Homo sapiens: one gene and its partner. The protein of the gene in region 2 interacts with the protein of the main gene of each other region in a biochemical or structural test. Each region holds a gene or a part of one and is shown on either strand. Other genes may lie near its edges.

Region 1 (17,458 bases), on a different chromosome or scaffold from region 2:
CAGGTTCAAGCAATTCTCCTGCCTCAGCCTCCCGAGTAGCTGGGATAACAGGCGTGCGCCACTACGGCCAGCTAATTTTTGTATTTTTAGTAGAGGCGGGGTTTTACCATGTTGACCAGGCTGGCCTCGAACTCCTAACCTCAGGTGATCCACCTGCCTCAGCCTCTCAAAGTGCTGGGATTACAGGTGTGAGCCACCGTGTCTGGCCAGGAGCTAAACAATTTGAGGTCAAGATGTGGCGTTAACAATGTTCCCACAGATCACAGAAACACAAGTGGACAGCAGAGGCCCTTCTTGCACTAGTACTTCTACCTGGATGGGGCCTCAGAGGTCTGACTTTCCACAGGAGAAGAAAATCTTTGAGAGCCAATTTTACTGCTGGGTGCTGATGTTTTCCTCAACTGTCTAAATAAATCTTCAGCTAATAAACATTTCAATAAATCTGTTCTGGTGCCTTCCATTCCTTAAACTATACAGCCAGAGAAGATGGAACATATGAGCTTGGATTCTGTCTCTGTAGCGGATGCAGGGATATAAGTGAGCTGAGTTTTACACATTCCAAAGGGGCCACTGATCAGGTACTTCGGGATGCACTCCAAGTGTCCTGGCTAATTAAGATAAACCAAAGATTAGAAGGCATTTCTGGCTGGGTGCAGTGGCTCACGCCTGTAATCCCAGCACTTTGGGAGGCGGAGGCAGGTGGATTACTAGGTCAGGAGTTCAAGACCAGCCTGGCCATGATGGTGAAACCCCGTCTCTACTAAAAATACAAAAATTAGCCGGGTGTGGTGGCAGGCACCTGTAATCCCAGCTACTCGGGAGGCTGAGGCAGAGAATTGCTTGAACCCAGGAGGCGGAGGTTGTAGTGAGCCCAGATCGTGCCACTGCACTCCAGCCTGGGTGACAGAGCAAGACTCTGTCTCAAAAAAGAAAAGGCATTTCTTACTCTATACACAAAGTCATGAACTCGTCGTTTTGAACAGCATAAATTTACATGAAATTTCAAAACTTTGCCCCTCCTTCCCCTTTCTCCCTTGCTGGCATGTAGCTGTTTTAGTTTGTTCTAGCAGAAGATAACTATGTGCCAAGAATCCAACTGGACACGGACTAAAATTACTTTCATCTTAGTGTGTACCTTGGAAGCGTAAAGCGATTTTTCCTTGGCAACCTTGCATGGTTAGTCCACACAAACTCCATCACTATGAACATGGGTCTTCCTTTAGAGGTGGCAAAAGCATCTGTCAGAATTTGGGGCAGGTATAGCTGGATAAAGCATATTGTAAACCTATAATTTAATGCAAACTGTCAAATTTTAAATTGGCTAAAATAGTTTTAGAAGGTATGCAAAAGATCAAGTAAAATATAAGCATGGTAAGGCACACGATAAATGGTTCCAGGGAATCAGAATCTAATACGAAGTTAAGTAAACTGAGTATTTTGATTAAGTTCAAGGTTGAGTAGGGAACGTCATCCATATTTTGGGAGAAGTCCTCCAATGTGAATATGAAATTATGCTATGCATGTGAGAACAACAGTTGTCATGAACTGAGTACTTCTCACATCAGGATTGTGCTTTGCCTGTGGGCCCAGGCTCAACATGTTAGATATCTCCATTTTATAGATTAAAAAAAAAAAAAACATGAGGCCACTGTCAGTGTCTACAAACAAGTAAGAGGCAGAGTTTCGATTAAATTCTAAATTTGTGATTCAAAAACCCAGGTTCTCTTTTACACACCTCATTCCTTCTTTGTAATTCCAGAGAGCTAAATAAGTCATGCCAGAACATTTTATTTTCTATGTGGCTGAGGTTCTACCCACTCAAGAAGGTAAAAATAATAGAAAAAGCTTTCTGATGAACACCTGTGGCACACACCTGTAATCCCAGCATCTTGGGAGGACGAGGCAGGTGGATCACTTGAGCCTAAGTGTTAGAGACCAGCCTGGGCAACATGGTGAAACCCCATCTCTACAAAAAATACACAAATTAGCCAGCTATGGAGGTGCACACCTGTGGGAGGATTGCCCAAGCCCAGGGAGGTCGAGGCTGCCATGAGCTTTGATTGTACCACTGTCCTCCAGCCTGAGTGCCAAAGTGAGATCCTGTCTCAAAAAATAGAAAGGGGAAAAAAAAGTTTTCTAAGATTGTATTATGCAATTCCTCACCTCCTCCAGTATGTTACAGTGAATATTTAATAACCTTTTCCTGGAAACTCATCCTTCACATGGATGACTGGACCACACCATAAATGAGGCGATGCTCCCAGGGTCTGTGGTGGGGAGGCTATTGGTACACACAGTGGTACTTTTCCAGTTTGCTTGACAGAATATGATTTTGATTCTTCCCCTGGCTGCTGTTCATGTGTTTGAAGTCCCTTTATTTATTTATTTATTTATTTGAGACGGAGTATGGCTCTGTTGGCCAGGCTGGAGTGAAGTGGCATGATCTCGTCTCACTGCAACCTCCACCCCCCAGGTTACAGCGATTCTCCTGCCTCAGCCTCCTGAGTAGCTGAAATTATAGGCACGAACCACCACGCCCAGCCAATTTTTTAATATTTTTAGTAGAGACGGGATTTTGCCATGTTGGCCAGGCTGGTCTTGAACTCCTGACCTCAGGTGATACACTTGCCTCAGCCTCCCAAAGTGCTGGGATTACAGGCATGAGCCACTGTGCCAGGCCCCTTTTCTTTCCTTAAATGGGGATCTCCCACTGCCTTGGGAACGAGATAATCAAACCAATTAGAGCTATATGTAAAATGAAAGTAAAATAGGCCTGAAGGGCTGGCCCACAAGGACCCCATAAGAGCCCAGATTCCTTAACTTCCACTTTCATGTCAGAGCAGCCCCACTGCATACCTCTTTTGTGCTGTGTCCCAGATAAAGGAGTACATCATGTCACCGAGTTCTAAGTAAGTGGGGTGCACTGAAACTTTCAGTAGAAGCAAGATGCAAACACATACAAACATGTATGATGTTATTTATTTTCTCACTGGCACTGGCCTACTGCACTTAAACATTTCCATCAGACTCAAAAAATAATTTTATTTCAGAAAAAATATTTTACCTATTTAGCTTTTGTTTATACTGTTTTATTATTAATAGGTTTTTTTTTCTTTTTTTAAGAGATAGGATCTTGCTGTGTTGCCCAGGCTGATCTCCAATTCCTGGCTTCAAGCAATCCTCCTGTCTCAGCCTCCTGTGCAGCTGGGACTATAGGTATATGCCACTGCTCCCAGCTTGACTTAATGGAATGTGTTTTTATTCACCCATTGGAAAAGCCTTTGCTACATATTAATACAAACTTCTCATTAATAAACCCTCCTTTTTTTTTTTTTTGAGACGGAGTCTCGCTCTGTCGCTCAGGTACGATCTCGACTCACTGTAACCTCCTCCGCCTGGGGTCAAGCAATTCTCCCGTCTCAGCCTCCTGAGTACCTGGGATTACAGGTGCACGCCACCATGCCCAGCCACTAATAAATCCTTCTTTAAGTAAGAAAATAATATAACATGAGCATAACTTTGCATGAATTTTAATGTCCTGGAGGCTTGTTGCTTTGTATAAAGTGCAGGTCAGTAAAAATTAAAATGAGGTAATGTGGTATAATACGATTAACCCAGTAAGGGTACAATAAAGGATGGCTATTATTATTATTATATTGTTATTATTATTTTGAGACAGAGTTTTGCTCAGTCACCCAGGTTACAGTGCAATGGCACGATCTCGGCTCACTGCAACCTCCACCTCTGGGTTCAAGCGATTCTTCCGCTTCAGCCTCCCAAGTAGCTGGGATTACAGGCACCTGCCATCATGCCCGGCTAATTTTTTGTATTTTTAGTAGAGACGGGGTTTCATCATGTTGGCCAGGCTGGTCTTGAACTCCTGACCTCAGGTGATCCACCCACCTTGGCCTCCAAAAGTGCTGGGATTACAGGTGTGAGCCACCGCGCCAGGCCAAGGATGGCTATTATTTTCACATGAATTCAACTGAAATCACGATAGGGCAACACCAATAACAATGTTTCCTATATAGCTTAAAAACTGTTCTTTGTCATCCCCTCATCTACCCAATAGGGAATTAGAACTAGCCTGTTAGGTTGCTTGACAGGACCACTGAATGCTGGGAATCAACCATACTCTATTCTCTCATTTAACAGATGGGGAAGCAGAGGTCCAGGGAATTTGGGAAACTTGTCCACAAAGGGACAACTACTTTGTGGCTGAACTATGTCTAGGACCAGGGCTCTCTTTATCAACATGAGTATCTCCTTCCTTTATCTGCCCCTTCATGTTTACAAGGCACCTCCTCAGCTCCATGATTTTGTTTGTTACGCTACATCACTCAGCTCATGAAAACGGCTTTTTTTCCTCTTTTCTTGTCTTTGGAAGATTTTTTGCATTCTTGTAGCAGCTGATTCCATACTAACCTTTAAATTGAAAAAATATATATACACACAGACACGTATGTGAATATGTGGGAGAAACAGCACTAGGTCTCCCTGGACAACCCAGTGCAGGCCACACCTTGGCAGTCACAGAGCACAAATAAGAAATGATCTTCCCGTGTGAGTTGCTTTCGACACTTCAATGCTAAAGAGCTCAGAAGTGCTTACACTTTGAAAGAAGCCTGAAAACATTTGTAGGCTACCCTTTAATGTGTCTCATTTGGAGATAGAACAGTGAGCAGGTTGACCAGCTGCTCTTCATGTACTTCTTGCAGTAAATCCTTCAAAGAATGAAGAGTGAAGACAATTCATTTTCCCTCCTGGAATTTTTCCTTCTTATTATTTTGCTTTTTTAAAGGTTGTTATATTCAGGTATAGGCATAAGACATTATAAAAGATAAGGGGTATCATGTGAGGGAGGAAATCCGACAATCCAAAAAATCTTCCATAGAAATTAAAAATCAGAACTTGGGGGCAAGGTAGGAGGCAACACATTCTTTCTACAGAGCTGTGACACATAGCCCAACTGTCCTCAAAAGCAGGAATAAAAAAAATAAACAACAACAACAACAAAAAACAGACCTCAGCTGCATAATGAAGCTGGGGTCTTGGCCTGATAGCTTTTAATGTCCTTAAAACGGGGCTGGGCATCAAGCATCTTTTCCGGAATAGGCCAAGGAAGACAAGTCCAGTTTGGTTTTTAAGGCTTTAGTGAGCTCTGCGGCCAGCAGCTCATGGAGGGACACGCCGTCGTGGGAGTACACCCAGTTTTTCCCAGTCCAGTCATAACGCTTAGGTCCACTGGAAGACAAAACAAATGCATAGTAATTCCACAGCACAGCCCTTCAGATGAACCACTGATTCCACAAATGCTGCCCCCAAGAAATTGACTGGAGTAAAGCTCTAGAAAATAACACAAAATGAGCTAGTGTATATCTGCCTTCTTATCTTAGCATCTAAGAAGAGTTATACGATATATCTTCTGGAACAATTCCAAGAATGATTCTCAAAACCTGAAAAAACATTTGACCCTTACTGATAAGTCTCCAGGTATCACACTTTGATCTCCAGCTTTTGCTACCTCACATGTGATACCTGCTATGCTGGAGCAGTGTTTTAAAAATTAGGGCCATTTTTGTGCTACAGATGTAACTTGTGCCTTACCTATAATATTATTAGTTGTTAAGGTGAAATTCACATAACACATTAACCATTTAAAAATGAATAATTTGGTGGCATTTAGTACATTTACAATGTTGTGCAACCACTACCTCTGCCTAGCTTCAAAACATCTGCATCACCCCAAAAGGAGACCCAGTGCTGTTGTTCCTTGGTATCCATAGGGAAGGGGTTCCAGGATCTGCAGATACCAAAATCCGTGGGTACTCAAGTCCCTGATATGAAATGGTACGATACATGCATCTAACCTAGGCACATCCTTCTGTATGCTTTAAGTCATCTCCAGATTACTTATAATGCCTAGTACAATGTAAATGCTGTTAATAGTTGTTATATTGGTTTTTATTTGTATCATTTTTGTTTTGTTTTTTATTTTCAAATATTTTGATCCACGGTTGGTTGAATCAGATGTGGAACCCACAGATACACAAGGCCAACTATACCCATTAAACAGTTATTCCCCATTCCTTCCTCTCCTAGCACCCCAGCAATCACCTAAACTATTATTTTTAAAACATATTTTTCTTAATTCAGTGTTAAATTCATGACATTGAGAGCCTGGTGGGCTAGTTCATCCACCTCAAGCTCATCCAGTGAATAATGGCACATGCACGTTGCTTTGGGAATGCTGTATTCGTGTGGACAGATCGGAGGCTGGCTTCTGCCATGTCTTCTTATACCAGATGTACATTCCACTTCCTCATGGCCTCATGGATGATTGGCCACGGCAGCAGATAACACTAGTGCATGTGGCACCCTGATGGAGGTAAGAACAGAGTGCATGGGAGCCCAGAAGAAAGGGCACCTGAGTCTGCCTGAGCACTCAAGGAGGGCTTTTCCAAAGACTGAGGCTAGGATGAGGTCACCAGGAAGGGAAGCTTGGGCAATAAAAGTATCAAGGATTCCTGCATTATCAACCAAATGCTGGGGCTTGAACCTGTTCCCAGTATGGAGATAAAAATGAGTGAACCAAACCATCAGGGTCACAGGAAAAGGACTAATAAACCACACCAAGCCCAAGGACCGTCCCCTTGGCCCTATACTCTGATACTGCTATCGGGTTGCCAGGCAGAGCCTGAGTAACCTCTAGACCCCTCCACACTGCCTGAGGTGCTCTGAGCACAGGCACTGATGCCCACGTGTCCCTAGAATTCTCCTTTATTCTGCAACCTCCTCAGGGTGCGCAAGGTGGGAGGTAAGACTGCTGATTTCACAGGACCTGAAAACTTGTCAAATTAAAAAAAACAAACAAACAAAAAAAACAGGCTGCTGCAGTGGCTCACACCCATAACCCCAGCACTTTGGGAGGCTGATGTGGGAGGATTGCTTGAAGCCACGAGTTTCAGACCAACCTAGGCAACAAAGTGAGACCCCATGTTGACAAAAAAAATTATTTTTAATTAAAAATAAATAAAATTAAGAAAAAAAAAACAAAACAAAAATCAGAAATGCAGCCAGATGAAAGATATTTTGAACCAATGTGAAAGGCTGAGAGAAAAAAAAACAAAATTTTTTTTATATTAAACAACCTTTATTTGAAAAATAGTGCCTTACCATCCTAATGCTATCAATCAAACTTCAATAAGAGCAACTGCAGCATCAACCAATAACAGTTGCTAAATTAACAAGAGATCAGTCAAAAGTGCTTTAAAGGCAGCAGCACTGGCTGGTGTTTCCCTGAGCCTCTGGGCATTCAGGACCCAGGTACAGGGAAAACAGAATCAAACCAGCTGGTGTTCTGCATCCAAGCCCTCGCATCGTTACCTGCCTCCCTCCTGGTGGCCCTGGTGGCCCATGGTCCCCCTAGCACTTCTGAGCCCCTGTCAGCTGTGGGCGGGGCGCCAGGAGCCACAGGCCACTTGTAAAAGGTTGGAACTTGGTCTCATGGTCAGCTGGTTTCTTCCCATTGTGGTCATTTTCTTTTTGGAGTGCCTGGAGCACTCTCTCAATGGACACGGCGGCCCTCCAGCCTTCCTGGGCCGTTTTCTTTCTTTTTTTTTTTTTTGAGATGGGGTCTCACTGTGTCACCCAGGCTGGAGTGCAGTGGTGTGATCTCAGCTCACTGCAACCTCTGCCCCACAGACTCAGGCAATCCTTCCACCTCAGCCTCCTGAGTAGCTGGGACCACAGGCATGCATCACCACACCCGGCTAATTTTTGTATTTTTGGTAGAGACGGGGTTTCACCATGTTGCCCAGGCTGGTCTGGAACTCCTGAGCTCAAGCCATCTGCCTGCGTCAGCTTCCCAAAGTGCTAGGATTACAGGTGTGAGCTACCGTGCTTGCCCCCTGGGCCATTTTCTTACAGCAAATTGGAAGAGTCTTTCTTCAATTCCTGGGCCAGGTTTTGGGCCATCTTCATGTAGTGGTCATGGGTGTGACACATGTGGTTCAAGTTTTCATGCACCTTGCTTAGTCTCTGCTAGAGGTCGGGCAGTAGGCATCCTCCTCCGTGGACTCCCGCTATGGCCTCATCACGTTTTTGGTGCAGTTCAGGCAGAGCGGGCAGCATCAGCTGCAGCCTCAGGAGCTCCGTCTCCAGCTGTGCCCTTGCACCCTACAGAGGCCTACTCTCCAAGCTCTTTACTCCTTTGGATTTCTTCAGAGGGACTTGTAGCCAGGAAGCGGGGAGACCACCATGTCTGGTTTCCCTGTTCCCCTCCACTGCCAAGTCCCCATCATACCACCCTTGAGCAGAGGCAGGACATTCAGCGGGGTGAGTGTCAGAAAGTGACATTATTTATGCAATGTCTTGGGGGAGTGGAAAGAACTCACAGTAGCCGCTTAGCACGAGGAGGCCAGTTGCTTCACTCCAACATTCATGGCCTGTTTCATTCCTGCCTTGGCCTTTCCTTCTTCTCCTCCTTTTTTTGAGACAGTCTCACTCTGTCGCCCAGGATGGAGTGCTGTGGCACGATTTCAGTTCGTTACAACCTTCGCCTCCTGGGTTCAAGCAATTCTCCTGTCTCAGTCTCCCAAGCAGCTGGGATTACAGGTGCCTGCCACCATGCCTGGCGAATTTTTTGTATTTTTAGTAGAGACAGGGTTTCACTATGTTGCCCAGGCTGGTCTCAAACTCCTGACCTCAAGTGATCCGCCTGCCTTGGCCTCCCAAAGTGCTGGGATTACAGGCGTGAGCCACTGTGTCTGGCCCCTTCTTCTTCGCCTGCAAGCATTGCTTCTGTCTCGCAATTTCTTGGTCAGGCAGCTCTGCGGTTTGCTGATGGTCAGTGCCGTCATTCAGATAGTCTGCAGTTTGCCCCTGAAGATCCTCTCCATGGTGCTGTGAAGCATGCAGGACGCACTTTGCATCAGTCACTCGGGGAAGTTCAGGAGGCCTGCTTTTCATGCTTTTTCAGAAACTAACCTAGGTCCTGACACGAGGACCTGCTCATTTCATTTGGAACCCTCGAACAGAGGGTTTGGAGCAATCAAGGACTGGCCTCTGGCATGGTCAACGTAAGACCACCACCAGCCTGAGGTGCTGGCCGCATCTTGGCCCTGGCCTTTCTGTGGATCTCACCTTGGGCCGATTCTCCCCTTCTCAGCTTGTCATCTTCTGACTGTGAAGGCCACCACAGCAGTGCACGCCTGGGTCACCCAGGGTATTTATAGGTTCCTTGGCACTAGTCCTAAGATTCTGCACATCACTAGCACTGCCGCCCACAGGAGGGCCAGCAGCAGCTGAGTTGGCATGTCGTGGCGGCCAGCAGGCCCTCTGTGGCTCCCGAGGGCTCTGCAGCTCTGCCTCCACTTGCCAGTGGCCTGTGGGCCACAAATCACCACTCGGAACCCTGTGGGGTGTTCCGTCTCAAACAAAAACAAGGGCCCATCAGTCATTGTAGAACTTCTGTTGGGCTGGGGGGAGGGGAGGCACCCCATGTTCTAGAAAATTGTGTCCCTGATTTTGCTGTGCAAACAGAAAGTGACATTATTTATGCAATGCCTTGGGGGAGTGGAAAGAGCTCATAGTAGCCCCTTAGCACAGGCCACTCCAGGCTCCACCTGGCCCTACAGCACAGCTAGTGGGTCAAAGCAGGGCCAGGTCATAGCCCCGTGTCCACATGCGATCCTCTCAGGGTAGCATGGTGGCCTGCCTCTGTCCCTTCTGAGGCTCGTTACCAATTTCAAGCTTCCTTCTGCTGCAGGGAAGCCCGGTCCCACCTACAAAGAGTCTGTCTCCCTTGCTAGATTGAGCTCCTTGAAGATGGGACTGTGTTTTCTTCATCTCTGTATTTCCAGTAGCTCATCAATGCCCATTATACACTAGAGGCTAAGTCATTTTGGGCCCTGTTTTCTTGTTGACTCTATTCTGACTTAGGACATGTCACTTTCCCCACTGGACCTGCATATTCACATCTGTGAATAAGAGTAAGTGGGTAAAGACCCTTCTTGCTTTAAAGCCCCTCCAATACAGAGACCTCTGAAACCAGAAGCAGAAGCTGAGGAGTGGTGAATGGAGCATTTTCCCTGGCATGATGGCTGAGACCTGCAGATCTGGCTATGAGGGTGGTATCTTGCCAGTTGAATGCCTCTGCAGAATTTCACCCTACTTTTCAAAGCAGACTCAAGGATGATCTTTATTGTTGATAATTTCATGTTTTTGTTGTTGTTGTTGTTGTTTTGAGGCTTTGATATTGACACAACAGCTTCTGGAAATCTTTTCCACAGAGAGTATGGGGACTTCTTTAGCCAAGTTGGGCGGGTGCAGGCTCCAACTGCTCGGCAGCCACTGTCCGGGCCACAGCATGTCCACAACCTCCTGCTCCTCTACAGGGGTTTCTCCAGACATAACCGTGTGTCTGGTCATGCCATTTGCCACAGGTATAAAAACAATGACGACGGCCCGAAACTGCGGGATCTTCCCGCGGAATCCTGTGCCTTCGCAGGTACAGCTACACGGCGCTCCCGCGCTCCGGCCTGCTCCTTCCAAGAAGACAGGCGCAGAACGGCCTGGGTCCTGCTCCCCCGGAACCCCGCAGTCTGTGTGGGCAGCAGGCCGGGAGTGGGGAGAGCCGCCCTGGTGGTGAGGCCCGGAGCGGGACGGCTGTGTTAGGCAGCATCCTGGCCTCCAGTGACCAGCAGACTGACTCGGCCTCCATCCCCCGCTGGGAGCTGCCGTCTTGCCGCCACTTCCCACAGAAGCACTGAGAGCTTGTCCTCAGGGCCCGCTTCTCTGCCTCCCTTCCCCCGACTCCCATCCGGCGGTGGCCACTCTGGATCTGCCGGAAACGGCGCAGGAAGGGGAGGGGCCTGAGGTGGACCGGGGAGCCTGTGGTCTCTGGGTGTGGCCTGCTCTGGCCAAGGCACCTCTTCAGTCTCACCCAGTCTCAACCTGCCCCGTCCCCCATATATATATATATATTTTTTTTTTTTGAGGAAGATAGTATCTGTGACAGTAAACGGCATGCTCAGCAGATCTTTCCAAATTCCCATGCTTCTGAACACAGCTAGAGCGTATTGCTGGGCAGTGTGTCCAAATACGATATGGACGTTTTCAGTCTTCAGATATGGGGAAAGTTCTTTTGGGGTAAGTGCCTGCCCGATATCTACAAAGCCACTGATCCCCAAAAGTGATCGCTGGACCGAGCTGATCCACTTCGTTCCCCCGGAGATGAAGGATAAGAACACACAGGCTCAAGCACAGCCAGGGTCAGGAAGAATGACTGAGGCCACAGAGGCTAGTTGGCCCACAGAGGTTAAAATCCTCCAACCTCCAGCACACTAACTGGGTCTAAAAACCAATACAATCTGTGAATTAGGGCCTTCCTAGAATGACAGTGATTTCTAGTGCTGTTTTTGTTGAACTCTAGCACACTTCTTGGATGAAAGTGTGGGGAAAGGAAACACACTATTTATTCTGAACAAAGCATTAGAGATCACAGAATAATAAATGGGAAAATATTAATTACCTAAAAATGATGTCAATGTTAGGGGGTAGAGTAAGGTTATAATTTTTAAAAAATGCAAATACCGTTAGTCTTTCAAAGAATTCTATGCTAGTTTTATCTGGCCCTTTCCCAATTCACAGTCAACATGCTCTCTTTGGAAGTGCTAATGAATGACTGGATCTGAGAACGTTTTGTGGGCATTTCTCTTTTACTTTCTTACAACCACTTCAACAGCAGCCAGGCTGCTGAGGGATGAGGGATGTCTCTCCCTGCATGTTCTCAGGCTTTCAGATGCTATGCAGGCCACATTGTGTCTCCAACACAATCTTTTATTCCTCTAGATTGAAAGCACATCAATGGAAAAGGCAGGAGGGATTAAATGCCCTGGAGCAGCAATATATAACACTCTACCACCTCCACAGGGTACACAACCCCAACCTGCAAAGGGAATTCAAATAACCCTTTACCTGAGAGGCTCAAAACAAGTAGAGGTCAAACTTTAACTTGCTTTGAAGACAAAGTGCAACTTGTTCAAACGCTACAAGGTCAAAAGTAGCTTCTTTTAAAGTCAGGGCAATAATTTAATAGAGGAAAACTGTCTAGGCTGGATTTGGAAAAGTTATAAGCTACTCACTTCAGATCTTAATATCCTGATGCCTGCTTACAGTATCCAAATTGTCAGCAGGGAGAAGTTATGTAACTAGAGTAAACTTTTCTACTGAGAATGAGACAGGCTGCAAAATATCAGGAAAGGCTCACTTACAAGGATGCTAACATAAGACGATGACTTTTTTTTTTTTTTTGGGACAGGGTCTGGCCCTGTTGCCCAGGCTGGAGTGCAGTGGCGCGATCTTGGCTCACTGCAACCTCCACCTCCTGGGCTCAGGCTGAGGCTCAACCTCAGCCTTCCAAGTAGTTGGGACTATAGGCGTGTGCCACCACACCTGGCTAATTTTTATATTTTTAGTAGAGGTGGGGCTTTGTGACATTGCCCAGGCTGGTCTCAAACTCCTGAGCTCAAGTGATCCACAGGCCTTGGCCTCCCAAAGTGCTGGGATTACAGGTGTAAGCCTGCACCCAGCTGTGACTTTATTTTTATTTTCTTTACAGAGACAGGGACTCACTATGTTGCCCAGGATGGTTCTGAACTCCTGTCCTCAAGTGATCCTCCTACCTCAGCCTCTCAAAGTGTTGGGATTACAGGTGTCAGCCACTGTGCTCAGCCGACATTTCTTAAATGGTCCACAATGTCACATTTCGGAAGTCTTTAAGAATTACATATGTTGACTTCTGAACATACCTACATACCTGGATGGAGAAGATAGCCAGATTTGCTTGTTTGGCGTCTGCTTGTTGATCACATAGGTTCCTAGATCTCCACCCAGTTTGACAGTTAAGACACCACTCTAGGGGATTAGGTGGAAAAAAAGCATAAAGAAATTAAAACAAGAAAAAGTTAGCACTTTGTCATCATTGCTTCATGTTTTATCTCAACACTTTCCATTTCTACAAGTACACAAAATACACCATAAAGAAATGTCTTTTAGTATTTAGAAATAGGAGTTTGTGTAGGAAGAGCTTTGCTTTCAGAATCAGAATAGGATTAATCATAATGATGTTGTATCTCATAGAGCTTTCCCTGTTCCCTGTGAGGTCTGCAAGGTGAGAATGGTGGTGAAGCTCGGAGAGTTAAGTGACCTGTCTCAGGTCTTGGTGCTGGCATCTGGGACTGCTGGTTTGTTGCCCTCAACCATCAACCAGAACATACTAGAGGACATAAAAAAAATGCAGACTCTAACTCTATTAGAGTACCACGTCAACTCAAACATCAGACATGACAAGTCTATTACAGAGGAAGTAAAAGGAAGGTAAGGAAGTATGCAAACCATCTGCTTTGCTTGTCTTAGGAGAGCATTAGCTTCAGCTCTGTTGGTAGAAGGCAGAAACTCCAGATGAAGTTTTTTATTTCCAGACTCTTCCCACGCATCTAACAAGCTTCTCAGATACTCCTCCAAGGCTTTATTTTTCTCTAAAGAGCCTTGAATTCTTCAAAAGACTAGTTGGTGCATCTTTGACCAATAAATGCTCATTTAAATTTGAAAACACTCTTTCAACAAAAGAGTCCTTTACTTCTAAGGCCTGTGGTCTCTTTAGAATGGGTGAGATATGAAAGAAACAGCTACAGGGCTAGTTCTCTGTATTTGAACTGGTAAGCAGGGGGAAGCCTGCTGTTCCCCATCTTGTGCATGACTTGCAGAGATACACGGTGGCAGCCTTTTTCTGTGCATTCTAGAGCCTCCATCCAATCGAGAGGCTCTGAATGATTCTTATAACACACTTTTGCAAACACAGAGAGCTATTTAGGCCAGGCATGGCTCATGCCTGAAATTCCAGCACTTTGGGAGGCCGAGGCAGGCAGATGGCTTGAGCCCAGAAGTTCCAGACCGGCCTAGGCAATATGGCAAAACCCTGTCTCTACTAAAAATGCAAAAATTAGCCAAGTGTGGTGGCATGCGCCTGTGGTCCCAGCTACTTGGGAGGCTGAAGTGGGAGGATCACCTGAGCCCAGGAGGTTGAGGCTGCAGTGAGCTGAGATCACACCACTACACACCAGACTGGGCGACAGAGATCCTGTCTCAAAAGCAAAGCAAAACAAAACAAAAAACCCAAAAAACAAAGAGTTATTGAAATTCCAGAGGGTAGTAACAATAATAATATAACTGATAGGAATGGGACAAGGGGCACTACTGGGTTATTTTTTTAAAATAACATCTTTTTCTGATTCAAAAACAAATGTATAGAAATGATGGAGACGTCAGCAATGCAGACACTGATAAAAATATTAACCACTATTTACTCGGTTCCTACTGTGCCAGGCTTGGTGTTTGGCACTTTGTGTAAATTGTTTCCAACTTGACTACAATTGTTGGCGGTAGGATTCATTATTCCAGTTTCACAGATGAGGAAAACAGAGGTTCATAGTAAAGAGTACTCAGTAATTGGCAGAGCTAATCTTAAATCCAGGTCTCTGTGGGTCCAAAGACACTGTTCTTTCTATAAGATGAAGCATTCTCTCAATCCCATTAACCAGCGATAAAAGATATTCACTCTCAGGTATCAGCTGCCAGTTTTTGTTTGTTTGTTTTTACAACAGGGTCTTGCTCTGTTGCTCAGGCTGCAGCAGTGGCAGGATCATGGCTCACTGCAGCCTCAAACCCCTATGCTCAAGTGATCCTCTGACTCAGTCCCTGCCTCCAGAGAGCTGGGACTACAGACACCACACCTGTCTAATTTTAACATTTTTCTTTTGTAGAGATGAGGTCTCGCTATATTGACCAGGCTGGTTTCAAACTTCTGGCCTCAAGTGATCCTCCTACCTCGGCCTCCCAAAGTGCTGGGATTATGTTACAGGTGTGAGCTACTGCACTCGGCCCCATTTTTTTTTTTTTTAATTTTACTATAGTAAAAAGCACATAACGCTAAATTTACCATATTAACCATGTTAAGTGTACAGAACAATAAAGTATATTCACACTGCTGGGCAGCATAACTCTAGAACTTTTCACCTTGTAACACTGAAACTCTATGCCCATTAGACACTAATTTCCCCATCCCATAGCCCTTAGTAACCACCTGTCTACTTTCTATTTCTATGATTTTGACTAAAAAAAAGATGTTTTTTTAATTGAAAATAAAAATTATACATTTATGGTGGTGTTTCTGTGATTTTTGACTACTTTTGACTACTTCATCAGTGGAATCATAAGTATTTGTCCTTTTATGAGTTGACTGCCAGTTTTTGAAAGCATTTTTTAAAAGGGCTGGGATTATACAATACGTAAGTTTGTTTAAAAAAACATTTTTTTTCCTGAAACCCATTTTTACTGTTTTGGTATGACTATATTTCATTTATTTAAAAGTTTCTTAAAACTGAGGCTGCATGTGGTGACTCATGCTTGTATCCTGGCACTTCGGGAGCCCAAGGAGGGAGGATCGCTTGGGCCCAGGAGTTCAAGACCAGACTGGGCAACATGGTAAAACCTTGTTTTTACAAAAAATTACAAATTCACTGGGTGTGGTGGTGCGCACCTATAGTCACATCTACTTGGTAGGCTGAGGTGGGAGAATCGCTTGAGCCTCAGAGATTGAGGCTGCAATAACCGGTGATCACGCCACCACACTTCAGCCTGGGTGACACAGAGAACTTCTCTCAAAAACAAATAAATAAAAGTTTCTTAAAACTGTATAATTCAGGAGTTTTTAGTATTTCACAAAGTGTGCAAACATCACCACTATCTAATTCCAGCTATTTCCATTGTCCCAAAAAGAAACCCCGCACCCGTTAATACTATTTCCCACTCCTCTCATACAGAGTTTTATAAATTATTTTTCCATGAGATAAAGAGCTCATCCAACAATGATAGACTGGATTAAGAAAATGTGGCACATATACACCATGGAATACTATGCAGCAATAAAAAATGATGAGTTCATGTCCTTTGTAGGGACATGGATGAAACTGGAAATCATCATTCTCAGTAAACTATCGCAAGAACAAAAAATCAAACACTGCATATTCTCACTCATAGGTGGGAACTGAACAATGAGAACACATGGTCACAGGAAGGGGAACATCACACTCTGGGGACTGTTGTGGGGTGGAGGGAGGGGGAAGGGGGGAGGGATAGCTTTAGGAGCTATACCTAATGCTAAATGACGAGTTAATGGGTGCAGCACACCAGCATGGCACATGTATACATATGTAACTAACCTGCACATTGTGCACATGTACCCTAACACTTAAAGTATAATAATAAAAAAAAAGAGCTCAAAGAATCAACACACAATCATTGGTAATTTGTTCTCTTTGTGGCCCTTAAATGCTCCAGTTGTGTGTTGCACCCTATACTGGGGGGCCACAATCCAGCAGAAAGGGCAGAGGACTGAGTATAAGACGCGAGTTCCAGGTCTGGTCTCATCACTGATGAGCGGCGCCTGTCTGCCTTGATGTCTCTCCTGCCTCCTTCGAGGACTCAGGGCAAGAACTAGGGGCAGATGCGTGCTCAAGGTCTCCGCACTTGCGTCCATCACCACAATGCCTCAGCATACAGCAAATCAGGGGGTGCACATGCAACCACTGAAGCCAAAATTGACTTTTTCCTATCGGAATTGGAAATCTTTTGAGTGACTCCAGGTATCAGGCCACTCTTTTTCAAAGGGCATATTAATAAGCAAATGTGAGAGCCCTTCTAGCTCCACAGCTCTCAAGCTATTTTCACCCCCTGGCACCTTCTCTGCAGTCAACTTCCTCCCTCCCCACATGAGACCCACTCACCTCTACCCTGCTACCCCTCTGTGGGTCCCATTGCCTCGTGGTGCTTCCTGCCTCTGCATTCAGAGCTGCCTGACTGCTTGCTTGTCCCCTGACCTCCACTACTTTAAGCACCTTAGCAGCAGGAGATCTGTCTTTTCATGCTAGCATCTGCAGGTCTAGCACCTCCATCCCTCCTGCAAAAAGGACATTTGTGAATGAATGACCAACTGGTCAAATAGTGAATGAGCAGATGATGTCCAGGTAGTGTGATACCATCTGCCCAACTTAGGGCAAGGTTACACAGGGCAGAAAACCCCAATGCTCAACTTCCTCCCACCAGTCTGTTCACTGTAAATAGATTTTTTCCCCCACAGATCTTGAAACTATTTTGGAAGGAAAGTGGTGACAGGAAAGAAACTAGCTGCATTAGTTCAGCAGAAATTCTTAATGCTTTTGGAACTGACTACAAATAGACCAGATAAAGAGGGCTTTCTCTTCATCATCATCATTATTCCTTAGACAATCTGAGTCTATTTTGGGAGTGTGCATGCCCTTAAGTGCAGGGGGAATAGTCAAAATATGTAGCAGTTTCTGAGATGCAGGCACTAGCCAATTAGCACAGACAGTGGCCA
Region 2 (7,052 bases):
AAAAGCCATTATTTAAGAGTAAGCTCACATAGCACACCTATTTCCTTGGTGTTGCAAAGCTTGAGGTTGCACAGCTTTCTCATTTTGTAGAGCAAATGACAGTTTTCATCAACAGACCAATGGATTCACAGCTAAGAATAAGACAACTTGAAAACTCCACGTTTTACAAAATCATTTTCTATTAAATTATAAAAACCTCTGGGATCCAAACTAGCAAAAAATGCCAATTTTCAAAAAAAAAATTTTTTAGTGGAAAATACAAATATGGGCTCTATCTAATTTTTAAAAAGCTGGAGCTGGGCATGGTGGCTCACGCCTATAATCCCAGTTCTTTAGGAGGCTGAGGTGGGAGGATCATTTGAGTTCAGGAGTTCAAGACCAGCCTGGACAACATAGCAAGACTCTGTCTCAATAAAATAAATTTTAAAAGCCGGGTGCCATGGCTCACACCTGTAATCCCGGCACTTTGGGAAGTCAAGGTGGGCAGGTCACTTGAGATCAGGAGTTCAAGACCAGCCTGGCCAATATGGTAAAACCCTGTCTCTACTAAAAATACAAAAATTAGCTGGGCATGGTAGCAGGCGCCTGTAATAATCCCAGCTATTCAGGAGGCTGAGGCAGGAGAACTGCTTGAATCTAGGAGGTGGAGTTTGCAGTGAGCTGAGATCACACCACTGCACTCCAACTTGGGTGACAGAGCAAGACTCTGTCTCTAAAATAAATAAAATTAAATAAATAAAAGAAAGCTGGATACACAGATAAACTTTATTCTCCATGCTCTGCTATCAGAACTCAGGAACAGGGCCTGGTGTGGTGGCTCACGCCTGTAATCCCAACACTTTCGGAGGCTGAGGCAGGCGGATCACCTGAGGTCAGAGGTAGAGGTAGACCAGCCTGATCAACATGGAGAAACCCCATCCCTACTAAAAATACAAAATTAGTCAGGTGTGATGGCAAATGCCTGTAATCCCAGCTACTCGGGAGGCTAAGGCAAGACAATCAGTTGAATCCGGAAGGCGGAGTTTGCGGTGAGCCAAGATGATGCCATTGTACTCCAGCCTGGGCAATAAGAGCAAAACTCCATCTCAAAAAAAAAAAAAAAAAGAACTCAGGAACAAAATAGTGTCATCTAAATTTCTGAATACATCAATAGGTATCCAAATGCAAAAACTCAGGAATTACTTAGACTCTATATCCCTTACTTGAGACCCAAATTAAGATTCTTTAACTTAATTTACAATTAAAATGTTAAATTATAATTTTATAATAAATGAAGCTAGGATACAAAAAACTATTTGGCAAATAAAAGCTATACATCCTGATGATTAGCCTAGAAGAGATAAATGGTAGCCAAGACATAATTCAGAGGTCAGCAGAAACTTAAAACTGGCCTATTTCATTGAATTTAAGATGCAATCATTTATAAGGCACATCACTTATGTAGTATTTAAAATGAATACTAATTAATCTATAAGCCATTAAACTAAAGATATCTCAATTTTAGCTATGTCAAAATGAACCCATGAACCAAAGTAAAACTCATTTTGTCCACATGCCACCAACAATGGCAGAGAGGTCCCAGAAAGCTTGGTTGTTGAGGACCCATCTAACAAGTCTCTTGTCCCATTTCCAAGGCAGTTTCAAACACTTAAGCCCAAGTCTGCAAGAGCCAATTTAGAAACAATGTTACTCAAGAGAATTTCAGAGTGCACTTCCTGCCATGTACAATGAAGGTAGCTACAATGAATAACATGTTTGATATTTAATGTTTTCATCTTCTCCATTACCCGCCAGGTACTTAGCTCAGAAATCAATCCAGAGCAACTAGAATTTTTAAATTATGATCTCTAAAAAGAGAAAAATTTACAACACGAAAGAACACTTCGCTTTGCTCTAATATTAAAAAATACAAAGAAATGAAAACTGGAGACCAGGTGCGGTGGGTCACGCCTGTAATCCCCAAGTTTTGGGAGGTCAAGGTGGAAGGATAACTTGAGCTCAGGAGATTGAAACCAGCCTGGGCAACATAGTTAAGAATCCATCTCTATTTCTATAAATGTATTTTAAAAAGAAAAAAATAAAAAACTGGAAACCAATTAAAATGTACTGCTGTCTAGATTCAGACTGCCAGGAAATCTGGCAATATCTGTTGTCAATTTTTTTTTTCATTCACTGGCTTCAAACATGACCTCAAGGAAACCTTCTGAAGTCACCTGCATGTTTGGATTCCCATTCAACATTCTTATGGCTCCCTATGTGCTTCTCCTTCCCAAAAATTAGATCTATTAAATGAATGATTGAACAAATCAAAGAATGAACATACCCGTTCCATGCTTGAACAAGGACGAAGTTGGTTCTCAAGAAATAATTTAAAATCTCAAAAAATTCTCAAAGTACAGAACACCATCTTCCGACTCTCTCCCAGTTCACTCCTTTGCCCTTTTCTTGCACGTTCTACTATGTACGCTTATGTATTGAACAGTTCATTAAGTCTTTCTATAAATAAAACCTACTTTTCTTTTTTTTTTTTGAGACAGTCTCACTCTGTCGCCCACGCTGGAGTGCAGTGGTGCAATCTTGGCTCACTGTAACCTCCGCCTCCTGGGTTCAAGCAATTCTCCTACCTCAGCCTCCCGAGTAGCTGGGACTACAGGCGCATGTCACCACGCCCAGCTACTTTGTATTTTTAGTAGACATGGGGTTTCACCATATTAGTCAGGCTGGTCTTGAACTCCTGACCTCGTGATCCGCCCACCTCGGCCTCCCAAAGTGCTGGGATTACAGGTGTGAGTCACCATGCCTGGCCTAAATGAAACCTACTTTAAAAAAAATAGAGGGAAATTCTGATTCCAGTGCTCCACATTCCCCTTACACACTATCAGTTATTTGCTATGTAAATGAAAATTCTTAGGGTATCTCCCAACAGGATCAAACTAATAAGCATACCACTCCAACAACTGTGTTTAAAACATTTGTAGAAATTTAAATTGACTAACCTCCAGCAGCAGCAAGCACTATTCTTGGCCCCTTATAATGTGTGGTTATATAATCCACTAAGTCCTTACGACTTATAGATCTGTAAATGAAGTAAAACAATTTTTAAAGGAAACCAAAAAAAAAACAGATCTTCACATAATATACCTGAAATCAAATTGGACCATAACTGTATCCTAAAATGCAGTCAGAAATAGGATACAGGCAACACATCAAAGAACTTCACCTTTTTTACATCAAAGAAAAAATACACCATTACTGGTTTATTCCCGAAGTACCTATGAACTCACGTGCTTGGGAGCTAGGTGGGACTAAAATGTAGCTAACTACAGTTTCACTTAGATTACCAGGGGGAAAATTACTTTCTGAAACATACTTTTTGAAAATTTGTAAATGTTTATTTTCAACATTCATAAATTCCCTTATACACCAAGAAATTCTGTTATACCTACTTGATATTTTCAGTTGGTCCCAAAATTGTCCGTCCAAGTGCAGTATTTTGATAAGCTGTGGCATGAAGATAATCAAAAACAACTTCTTGTAAATTGGTTTCAACTTCCTGCATCTCTCTAAGGATTACTCCACGCTCACGTTCAATCTCTGCTTCTCCCAATGTGCTGTTTTGTATTATATCAGCAAGAATTTCTACAGCTAATTGAAAATAAAATATAAGAAAACGTGCCAGCAATCTTAACTTTCACTATTAAAATCTATTAAACCAAAATCAGAAATCATGACACTGACCCATCACTCAATACTAAATGATTAGCCTAGGAGAAAAACATCAGATATACTTAACAGGACAAAATTAAAATTTAACATATAAACCCCTATAGTACAAAAGATTTTTTCCTTGGGGAAAAAGTATAAATTTGCCATCACCTTGTAATGACTCTACCTACTTAAAAAATGCTATGGAAATTTGCATATTAATATAGATTGTTCTATATGAAAATTACAAAGTTATATATATTAGTCTGAAAATACCTAGCTAGCAATGTACAGAGGGTTTGTATCACCCAAGTATTTACTATGCAAGTTCCCACAGCAATGACAGTGCTATGTTAAGAAGCAAAGAACTGGTCAGGCACCGTGGCTCACACCTATATAATCCCAGCACTTTGGGAGGCTAATATGGGCTTCAGCCCAGGAGTTCCAGACCAACCTGGGGAACATGCCAAAATCCTGTCTCTACAAAAAATACAAAAATTAGCTTCGTGTGGTGGCATGTGCCCGTAGTCCCTGCTACTCGGGAGGCTGAGATGGGAGGATGGGTGGAGCTCGGGAGGCAAAGATTGCAGTGAGCTGCGATTGCACCACTGCACTCTCGCCTGGGCAACAGAGAAAAGAATCCTTACAATCTAAAATATGCCCCAAATGAATCACAGAATTGTGTGTTCTCAAACCCTAATTTGCAAAAAGCCAAAAGTGAAGTGGAACATGTTATATTAGGCCATTAAGCAATTTTATCAGAAAAAGCGCATACCTCTCCAAAAAAAAAACTGTGCTTCATTCTTGAAGAATTAGTACATAGTTGCAATCATAAATCTAAATTTCATTAATACGATTAATGTTATAAAATAAACTTACAATCTTAAGTTTCTTTTTTTTCCCCTAAGAGACAAGGTCTCATTATGCTGCCCAGACTGGACTCAAAATTCCTGGGCTCAAACAATCCTCCTGCCTCAGCTTCCTCCAAGTAGCCAAGACTAAAGGCATGTACTACCGTGTCTGGTTTAGGTTTCATTTTTTACTCTACTACAAACTGTTGTTGCTTGTTTTAATTAAGTTCACTTTAAGGGGCACTGTCTCAGAACTGATTATGTTCAAATACTAAGAACATGACAGAACAAACTATTATAGTAAGCTGTGGCTGAGATCATGACCAAAAGGAAAAAATTATCTGTAAAACCAAATAAAACCCATCTGTCCAGATAAGAGAACAGAGTCCAGTAAAATGGGTGAGAAAGAGCCCATAGACAAATGGAAGGACAAGAATTCCTGTGTGAAAATCCTCCTTTATGTGGGATTGGTGGTCTACCCTGGTAGTTTCCAAAGGCAGGGAGGGGGGCTCCTATTTCCCAGTCTGTTTTAATCTGAATCTTTTTTTTAAATGTGTATTTAATATATGTTAGTATAGTAGCACATGTATTTAACTTACAAGTATACATACATTAAGGATATATGATCAACTTTCTTACCAATAAGAGTAAGTGATCATCATGCACACGTATGTTTACTGCAGCACTATTCACAATAGCAAAGACTTGGAACCAACCCAAATGTCCATCAATGATAGACTGGATTAAGAAAATGTGGCACATATACACCATGGAATACTATGCATCCATAAAAAAGGATGAGTTCATGTCCTTTGTAGGGACATGGATGAAGCTGGAAACCATCATTCTGAGCAAACTATCACAAGGACAAAAAACCAAACACCGCATGTTCTCACTTATAGGTGGGAATTGAACAATGAGAACACTTGGACACGAGGTGGGAACATCACACACCGGAGCCTGTCGTGGGGTGGTGGGAGCAGGGAGGGATAGCGTTAGGAGATATACCTAATGTAAATGACGAGTTAACGGGTGCAGCACACCAACACGGCACATGAATACATATGTAACAAACCTGCACGTTGTACACATGTACCCTAGAACTTAAAGTATAATAATAAAAAATAAAAATTAAAAAAAAAGAATAAGTGATCATAAAAACCTGGAGACCATTAGTCTAAACATCTAATTATTACTTCATATACCAGGCTTCACACCCAGGGTGAAGGGTGAAAAACCCCAAGTAAATCCCCAAAGTTGGAGCTGCTTCAGAGAGCACTTCCATTTTGCATTCCTCAGGGAAAGCCCCTGTTTTTCCACTCCCACTAGCAGAAGCTCTGTCGTTCCCAGCTAGATGCCAGGAGAAAAGGGGGAAAAAAGTCGTTTAATTTCATCCTTCCTTTTTCTGTTTCTCCTTTTTGCCTTCCCTGTTGTTCTGTGTAAATAAAGGAAGGAACTAGGCTGGAATGAACAACTCTTTAAAGAACCTTGGCCTAGCCATATGTTCTTGGTCCCTAATTAGTCCTGGGACAAAAACTGTCTCTATTGGTTTTGTTATTCAAACCAACATACCCTCCATCGTTGCTGTCATTTTTGTTTTAATGCAAAAGTTAGGGTATCATATTAAGTATTTTAGTTATTTACAAGTGATAGGTTTCTTATTTTATTGTTTTGACAAAGCAAATGAATCTGGTAAGAAGACACGCACTTGAGTCCACAGTAAGCCACCTGATAGCTATGCAATCCTGGGCAAGTCAGAGTCTGAGCTTCAATTTCCACAACTGCAAGGTGGAAACACCTATGCACATCAAATGGATAATATATACACAAAAGTACTTGTGTTAAGTGCCATTTAAACATTATTAATGAAAGTCTATTAGGAATCCAAAATTGCAAAGTAGTAACTACAACTACAGAAGGACCTTAAAGGTTAAAAATTTCACTAATGGCCGTGCACAGTGGCTCACGCCTATAATCCCAGCACTTTGGGAGGCCGAGGCAGGTGGGTCACTTGAGGTCAGGAGTTTAAGTCCAGCCTGGCCAACATGGTAGAACCCATCTCTACTAAAAATATAAAAACTAGCCAGCTATGGTGGCAGGAGCCTATAATCCCAGCTACTCAGGAGGCTGAGGCAGGAGAATCACTTGAACCCAGGAGGCAGAGGTTGCAGCGAGCCGAGATCACACCACTGCACTCCAGCCTAGGTGACAGAGCGAGACTATCTCTCTAAACAAAAATAATGAGTTTACCAATTAGCTCTAAAACTGCTAAATTTTGTTGTTAATTCTTCCACTGGGAAATGTTTTGTGTAATAACTTTTAAGAGAGTCAAAACAGTCTACAAACATGGTAACTAACAAACTGCTGTCCTGACAAAATATTTTATTCCCACCAAATAATCTCTATTTTATTGCTACATATTAAGAAAAACCATCATCCATAATTTACTATTTGTCATATTTAGAAAAAAAATAAGATCAGCTGTACCCTCACCCA

The links.
Region 1: the proteins of PMPCB (region 2) and FXN form a complex in vitro, tested with the Homo sapiens proteins (one study listed by BioGRID).

Annotation. Positions count from the first base shown.
Region 1 is NC_000009.12:69,060,398-69,077,855, reverse strand, and holds part of FXN (frataxin, mitochondrial isoform 1 preproprotein), read right to left. Parts: intron 12,919-17,458; coding exon 12,821-12,918; coding exon of another isoform or gene 12,813-12,820; intron 5,245-12,812; coding exon 5,094-5,244; 3' UTR 1-5,093.
Region 2 is NC_000007.14:103,300,435-103,307,486, reverse strand, and holds part of PMPCB (mitochondrial-processing peptidase subunit beta isoform 1 precursor), read right to left. Parts: intron 3,646-7,052; coding exon 3,447-3,645; intron 3,077-3,446; coding exon 2,997-3,076; intron 1-2,996. UniProt on the Homo sapiens protein: Catalytic subunit of the essential mitochondrial processing protease (MPP), which cleaves the mitochondrial sequence off newly imported precursors proteins. Preferentially, cleaves after an arginine at position P2.